2 linked regions of the Homo sapiens genome follow. The protein of the gene in region 1 interacts with the protein of each later gene in a pairwise test. Each region holds a gene or a part of one and is shown in the gene's direction. Other genes may lie near its edges. The genes, in order: EPS15L1 and SIM2.

Region 1 (3,813 bases):
CTCATTGCTATCTCAACCTCCTGGGCTCAAGTGATCCTTCCACCTCAGCCTCCCTAGTAGCTGGAATAGGTGGATGCCACCACACCTAGCTAATTTTATTTATTTATTTATTTTGTAGAGATGGGGTCTTGCTGTGTTATGCTGGCTGGTCTTGAACTCCTGGGCTTGAGGGATCCTCCTGCCTTGGCCTCCCAAAGTGCTGAGATTACAGGCATGAGCACTGTGCCTGGCCTAGCTCCATGGATTTTGATAAATTGTTTGATCAAGTCCTTGCTGTACTTCATCACACATACTTGCTACGTGAAACCCCTGAACTAAGCTGATCTGGGTCACATGGTATCCCTTGTTTCCCAAGCTTGCTTTCTGATTTCCCTGAGTTGGTATCAGGAGCCTGTTAGATTTGGACATCACAGGAGACTCGTTCATGAAGAGTAAACGAGTTTAACCATTGTTTCCCAGTCTTGACCATGAGTCCCTTCTCCTCAATCCTATGGACATCTTCGGGTTGTCAACACTGTGAGAACTCTTTGAGAAATCCCCCCCCCCTTTTTTTTTCCCCGAGACGGAGTCTTGCTCTGTCGCCCAGGCTGGAGTGCAGTGGCACAATCTCAGCTCCCTGCAACTTCTGCCTCCCAGGTTCAAGCAATTCTCCTGCCTCAGCCTCCTGAGTAGCTGGGATCACAGGTGCCTACCACCACACCTGGCTAATTTTTCGTGTTTTTAGTAGAGAGGGGGTTTCACCATGTTGGCCAATCTGGTCTCAAACTCCTGGCCTCAGGTGATCCACCCACCTCAGCCTCCCAAAGTGCTGGGATTATAGGTGTGAGCCACTGCACCCAGCCTAAGAAATCCTTTCATAACTGAGAGGAATGACTTTGAGTGGCAGTTTCAGGCATCATGGCGTTCATTGAAGGTGAGGAGTGGAGTGGCTTTTCTGTACAGTTGCTGCGTGGAGAAGGAACAATCGATCCCTCCAGCCACATTTGCCTGTCCTTTTTCTCTCCACTCCCTCATCATCTAGATAATTCAATCAGGTGTTTATTCTCATTGCTATTATGAGATTGTTTAAAAGGAGTGATTTGTGTAAATATTTAAAAAAAAAGGGAAGAGGAAAAGCACGTCTAGAGTTCAGGACACAGATGCCGTGAACTGTGGCGTGGTGGGTGTATTGAAGGCCCGCGGTAATGCAGGTGGAGTAGGCCACGGAAGGGGCCTGCCCCTGAGTGCCTGAGGGGCCTCAATGCCTCTGAACCAGGAGGTGACCGGGCCCTGGTTGACCCATGATGGCGTTTGCCTCTCTCAAGTTAACTGTGAGCTGGTGGCGAGAGGGGTCGCACGTGCAGCGGGTGACCCAGCCCCAGGGCTGTGAACTTTGAGCTGCACTGGGCTCGTGGCTCCATCTGCCCTGGTGGGGTTGGGGCTGCATGAATGTTGGTGGGGCCTCGTGGGTGGTGGCCCTCTTGGATGGTGGTGTCTCATTTGTTACCTGTCAGTGACGTGTGTGTACTCACACCTTGGGGGTATCTTTGTTGTCTCAGGAGTGGGGCAGGGACATAGAAGGGTGGTCTTCAGAGTCCTGGGACAGGACACTTTGGCTGCCTGTAGGGCAGCCTTTGCGGGCTGAGGAGTGGGAGGACCAGGGAGGCTGGCATGTGGCCGGGCCGGTTCTCCAGGGACGGTCCTTCCAAGTGGGTGCTCGGGAGGGTCTTTCCTGGCATGCTTGAACCCATCCCCTGAAGATCACAGCCTCCCTCACACCCTGGGTGGCAGGGTGGATGGACAAGGAGAGCGGGTGATGGGGTGGAGAGAGGTGCAGACTGGCATCTGGGTGAGCTTCACAGAGCCAGCCTCAACCTGTCTCAGCCTCAGTTTTGCCAGTTACAGAACAAGGATCACATCTGCCCTCTTGGCTCATGGAAGTGAGGAGAGTTTGATGCCAAATGTGCATGGAAGTGCTTTAATCGCCCCATCATCAAAAAGCATGTGTCTGGGGGTCATAAAAAGCTTCCAGATTAACTGTTTTGCCAAAAACTGTTTCAGCCAACAGTGAACTGGGTGGTGCCCGTGGCAGACAAGATGCGATTTGATGAGATATTCCTGAAGACCGACCTGGACCTGGATGGCTACGTGAGTGGCCAGGAGGTGAAGGAGATCTTCATGCACTCGGGCCTCACCCAGAACCTTCTAGCACACATATGGTAAGGCCGGACAGGTGGCAGTTGTGGCTGTGGGTGGCTCCAGGGGGCCTGTGGGTGAAGACTGTGGAGGGTGGTGGTCAGGGGGCCCCCTCCAGCCTGTCACAGGCTTCCGCTGTGTCTGGCGTCCTTTATTCTCCCTGGCCTGACAGAGGCTGAGCAAGGTGCACGTGCCAAGGCTCGAAGCCCGCGCTCCGTGACGGTCAGTTCACTGTCTTTCAGTAGGAAGGGCCTCTGGTCCGTCTTAAGTGCTCCCAGGCCATTTGCTTACACAGCTGGGCCCTATTCTTGCTGGCTGTGATGCTGGCTCTAACAGGAGGCCTGGACTTTGTCACAGCCGCCTCCGGGAGGTGCGGGCAGCAGGGCCTTGGAGCCTCTAGCAGAGTGGCCTGGCAGGGTGAGGGCGGGGGCAGGAGGCCCTGCTCTGGAAAGGCCAGTGCTTTGGCTCCTGGCGGGAGGGTGAGCACAAGGAGACCCTGTCAGTGCCTCAGAGCCCAGTCGAGGAGTCGGCCTCAACCCCTCTTTCCCCCAGGGCTGGACACAGCCGACTTCATAGGGCTGGGGCACTCCTCTTGCCACTGGCCAGGGCTGAAGTCACTTTTGAGCTTGTTGCTCAGAGCCTTGTGGCCTTAGAGAAGGCTTCACTTGGGAGCTATCAAAAGGAAAGAATTGCTGGATAATTCTCGAGAGGCAAATACCTCCAAGTAGAGCAGTGAAATTCAGGATGTTACTTAGTGGCTTGGGGGAAATGACTGTCCTTAGTGGTAATTCACAGATGACCACACTGTGAGGTGGGAGCCTGAGAACTAGCTGTCGCAGAGTCATCACCCAAATGGCCAAGCCGCCTCCAACTGGCTAGGGACAGTGGGTCTCAGCTGCCTCAGATCCAGTGTCCCTTTTAGAAACCAACAAAACACAGTGTCCCCTTTATGACTCTGAAACCAACACACATACAGTTCCTGGTTAGCGCCCTGACACCCTGACTGTCATGTCTAGGGGTCAGTAGAGGGAAAGTAATTTATAATGCATGCTGCAATTGACACATGATGTAATGACATGGAAATGACACAGGAAATCACTAATCCACCTGGATCAAAAGAAGGAACTCAGAGGTCATTCCATGCGGGCAGCAAAGGGGAAGGAAAGGATGATCAGGCTCTTGAATAACCATGAGAAAAGAAGTCTAGATGTGTCTGCGAGTGGCTGGGGCGGGGCATGGCCCAATGTAGATGACACACCAGGAGGGACTGGGAGGAGGGGGAGCATGAAGACAGAGGCTTTTTCCCTGCGATGGCTGCCACCGTACGGGTCAGCAGAGCAGGATGTGGTGTCAGAGCCGGATGGCCGCTGACTGAGCCACCCCTAAGCTTGCTTCTCCTTCTTTCTCTCAGAACCTTCCACAGGTGGGCCTTGGAGCCCACACTCCTTGAGAGATGGCAGGAGCAGAGAAGGGGCGGGAGTGGAGAGGCAGCTGCAGCCCACGAGCAGGCTGGGGCCCGCAGGGGCAGACTGGGGAGAGACAGTGGCAGTATGAAATCGTCAGGGCCTCGAACTGTGGGGATAACTAGGCATTTATCAGCAATGTTCTTTGAGATCTGCTCATTCTCCGCAGCTCTGT
Region 2 (3,813 bases), on another chromosome or scaffold:
TTCTTTCGTTCTTTCTCTCTCTTTCTTCATTTTTATTTTTTAGAGACAGGGTCTCACTCTGTCACCCAGTCTGGAATACAGTAGCGTGGTCGGAGCTCACTCTAACCTTGAACTTCTGGCCTGAAGTGATCCTCCTGCCTCAGCCTCCTGAGTAGCTGGGACTACAGGCATGTACCACCATACCCAGCGAATTTTTAAATGTTTTTGGTAAAGATGGGGTCTTGCTATGTTGCCCAGGCTGGGCTTAAGCTCCTGTGTTCAAGTGATCCTCCCATCTTGACCTCCCAAAGTGTTGGGATTACAGGCATGAGCCACCATACCCGGCCCCAGAACATTCTGTAAAGAAAAGTGAACACGGGATCATCATAAATGGAACCACTGTGACCCTCCCACCCCACGCCTCACCCACCACCTGAGGTGGCTGATTAAAGGCACCATGCTCCAGCCTGGCCTCAGGAAAGCCGAGCTCTGCCTCCCCGCTTTCTTTGTTTCATGTTTGGGAGACTTTTTCTTGTATGTAGGGGGAGCTGGCAAAGGCTTGTGATCTGTTGACCCAGACCCTCAGGGGGGGCTGAGCACAGCCTGGTCCATAGGTGGAGAAGGGATCAGTGTCAGTAAACCTGACAGTTTGTGTCATGGGACACTGGGCTGTCCATGGTTTGGAAGAACCGTGATGTCCACATGGCTATTCTTCCAAGGTTGTTGAGAATTTCACCCGGCTCTCTAGGTAGGCTCCTGCCCAGAATGGGCCAAGCCCAGACCACAAAGAGAACACAGGCCATGTGCAGCTATTAAAACATTTCAATGTCCACTTTGGGAGGCCAAGGCGGGCGGGTCACTTGGGGTCAGGAGTTTGAGACCAGCCTGGCCAACATGGTGAAACCCCGTCTCTACTAAACAATACAAAACTTAGCCGGGCGTGGTGGCATTCGCCTGTAATCCCAGCTATTCAGGAGTCTGAGGCAGGGAGAATCTCTTGAACCCAGGAGACGGAGGTTGCAGTGAGCCGAGATTGTACCACTGCACTCCAGCCTGGGCAAAAGAGCAAGACCCTGTCTCAAAAAAAAAAAAAAAAAAAAAGCAAAAAAAAAGCAAAAAGAAAAAAGCATGGGGCCATATTCCTAAGGGCTTGAATAGATTTTGAGGTTGAAGAGCTTAGCGAGCACTAGTCCTCTTGAAATCCGTGGATGGATCCTCAGTCTGAGCCTGCTGCATCTCTTGGTTATTTTGGACCATAAACAAATTGGCCAAGTCTCCCTTAAAAGGTGAGCCCACCTCACCCCCATACGTATTATTCAATGTATTACTTTGAAAGTAATAGCAGCCAGATGCGGTGGCTCACGCCTGTAATCCCAGAACTTTGGGAGGCCAAGGCAGGCAGATCATGAGGTCAGGAGTTAGAGACCAGCCTGGCCAACATAGTGAAACCCCGTCTCTACTAAACTACAAAAAATTAGCCGGGTGTGGTCGTGGGTGCCTGTAATCCCAGCTACTCGGGAGGCTGAGGCAGGAGAATCACTTGAACCTGGGAGGCGGAGGTTGCAGTGAGCTGAGCTCATGCCACTGCACTCCAGCCTGGGTGGCAAAGCCAAGACTCCGTCTCCAAAAAAAAAGTAATGGCAAAAATCGCAAGTACTTCTATACCAACCTAATAGCTATAGAGAACTTTCCAGAGGCCGCTGCTCCCTCCTCCCACAGCTGCCACTTTGAGGACACCTGGGCTGGACTCCAGCTGTGCCCTCAAGCTCTGTTGGCCCCGGTTTCCTGGTGCTGCCCACCTCCCACCTCCCACTGTTGTAGTGGGGGTAGAATGAGGCAATCCTGTGAAATGAGCTGGAAGTAGACACCATGTATCTTTTCATTAGAGAAGCAAACCCCCAAAGGAGAAGCATTGTCAGGCTTCTCTCTTTGCCATGGCCTTTGCCTATACCCTTGAGCAGTGATCTGAGTCGGCTGAGATGCAGATGTTAAGCCTGGGCAGAAAAGCGCTGCTCTCTGCATGGTCCGGGAGAGACCCCTCTCCAGCCGGTGGCATGCTCGTTACGCAACACTGCCTCATGTCCCCAGGTTCATCCTGACGGGGTGGTGGGGCTTGATGGAGACTGGATTCCTGCCTCCCAACCCCCACAATCTTCTCTCCCATGTAAAAAACAAAACCATTTCATTCTGGTTAAACCTCCTCCTCGTTGGAAATTTAGAAAGTCAAGGAAAGCTGAAAAGAAGAAAGTGAAAATTATCTGTCATTTTCAGTCAGATAAAAGTTAATATGTATTGAGCCCTTCAGCTGTGTCTGCCAGTGTTCTAAATCCTCAAATAGATCATCTAATCTTTCAACAACCATATGAAGTAAGGACTGATTATCCTTTTTTTATAAATGAGGAAATTGAGTCACAGGGGGGTTGGTAGCTAGTCTAGGATCACACAGTTTGTTGGAGGGGGTAGTGTATGCACGTGCCCACTTTTTCATAATTAGGGTTATACTTTACACATTTCTGAATCTTGTCTTTTCTTCTGTTAACATTGTATCACACATTTCCCATAATATAACAATTTCTTATTAATCATCATTTTAATGGCTGCATAGTTTGCCATAATGTATTTACTCTTTTCCCTACCGTTGAAGAGTTAAGTCTCTCCCCACCCCTTTTCCCTGAATTTTCAGCAATATTGCAATGAAACCCTTTGTAGGTAAGTCTGTGTTTGCACACACAGACCTGCTCACAATTTCCATAGGATCAATTCCTAGAAGTGAGATCAGTGTGTCAGAGGGTGTGAGCTATCAGACTGCTTTCCACCAACTCATCCTTCCATCACACATGAAAATGCCTCTCACTGGGCCAGGCGCCGTGGCTCACACCTGCAATGGCTGCATAGTTTGCCATAATGGCAAACTATGGGAGGGCAAGGTAGGCGGACCACTTGAGGTCAGGAGTTTGAGACCAGCCTGGCCAACCTGGCAAAACTGGGGAGGCTGAGGCAGGAGAATTGCTTGAACCCAGGAGGCAGGTTTCAGTGAGATCATGCCACTGCACTCCAGCCTGAGCAACACAGAGAGACTCTGTCTCAAAAAAAAAAAAAGAGAAAGAAGAGAAGAAAGAAAGAAAGAGAGAAAGAAAGAAAGAAAGAAAGAAAGAAAGAAAGAAAGAAAGAAAGAAAGAGAAAATGCCACTCACCATAGATTAGCCGGTGTCACCTGTTGGCCTTTCATTTTTTTTTTTTTTTAGATAAAATTCACCTTTCTCACCATTTTCAGTGTTTTTTAGTTATATTCACAGTGTTGAACAACTATCACCTTTAATTCCAGAACGTTTTCATCATCCCAAAAGGAGCCTGTCACCCCAGTCCCCCTCGTGCTTCAGCCCCTGGCACCCACTCATTTGTTTTTGGACTCTGTGGATGTGCCTATTCTGGAAGTTTCATGTAAAGGGAATCATACAATGTTTGTTTCTATTTTAATGTCTGTTGATCTGATGGATGGATCTGCCTTTGAGTTAAACAAGGGAGTTGGGCATTTGTTCATCATTTTGCCCATTATATTTATTCTTTGATCTTTGCCTATATTGCTTTTAGGGTCTTTGTGTTTTTATCAATCTGTACGAACCCCCTATATATTAAGGTGAATAACTCCGTGCAGCATTTTCTTTTGCACCAAAATATTTTGATGTGGATGAGAAAGAGCCATCTGCAAGGTGAAAAGGAACCGTAAAGGGCCACAGACAGCCCAGGAGTGTTTGGGCAGAGACTGGGGGCTTTGCCCAGCGGTATGACAGGAAGGCTGAATTTTTGTTGCATATGAGCCTCAAAGGCTGAATT

The links.
Region 2: the proteins of EPS15L1 (region 1) and SIM2 interact in a two-hybrid assay, tested with the Homo sapiens proteins (one large-scale study listed by BioGRID and IntAct).

Annotation. Positions count from the first base shown.
Region 1 is NC_000019.10:16,419,704-16,423,516, reverse strand, and holds part of EPS15L1 (epidermal growth factor receptor substrate 15-like 1), read left to right. Parts: intron 1-2,040; coding exon 2,041-2,198; intron 2,199-3,813.
Region 2 is NC_000021.9:36,736,903-36,740,715, forward strand, and holds part of SIM2 (single-minded homolog 2 long isoform), read left to right. Parts: intron 1-3,813. UniProt on the Homo sapiens protein: Transcription factor that may be a master gene of CNS development in cooperation with Arnt. It may have pleiotropic effects in the tissues expressed during development.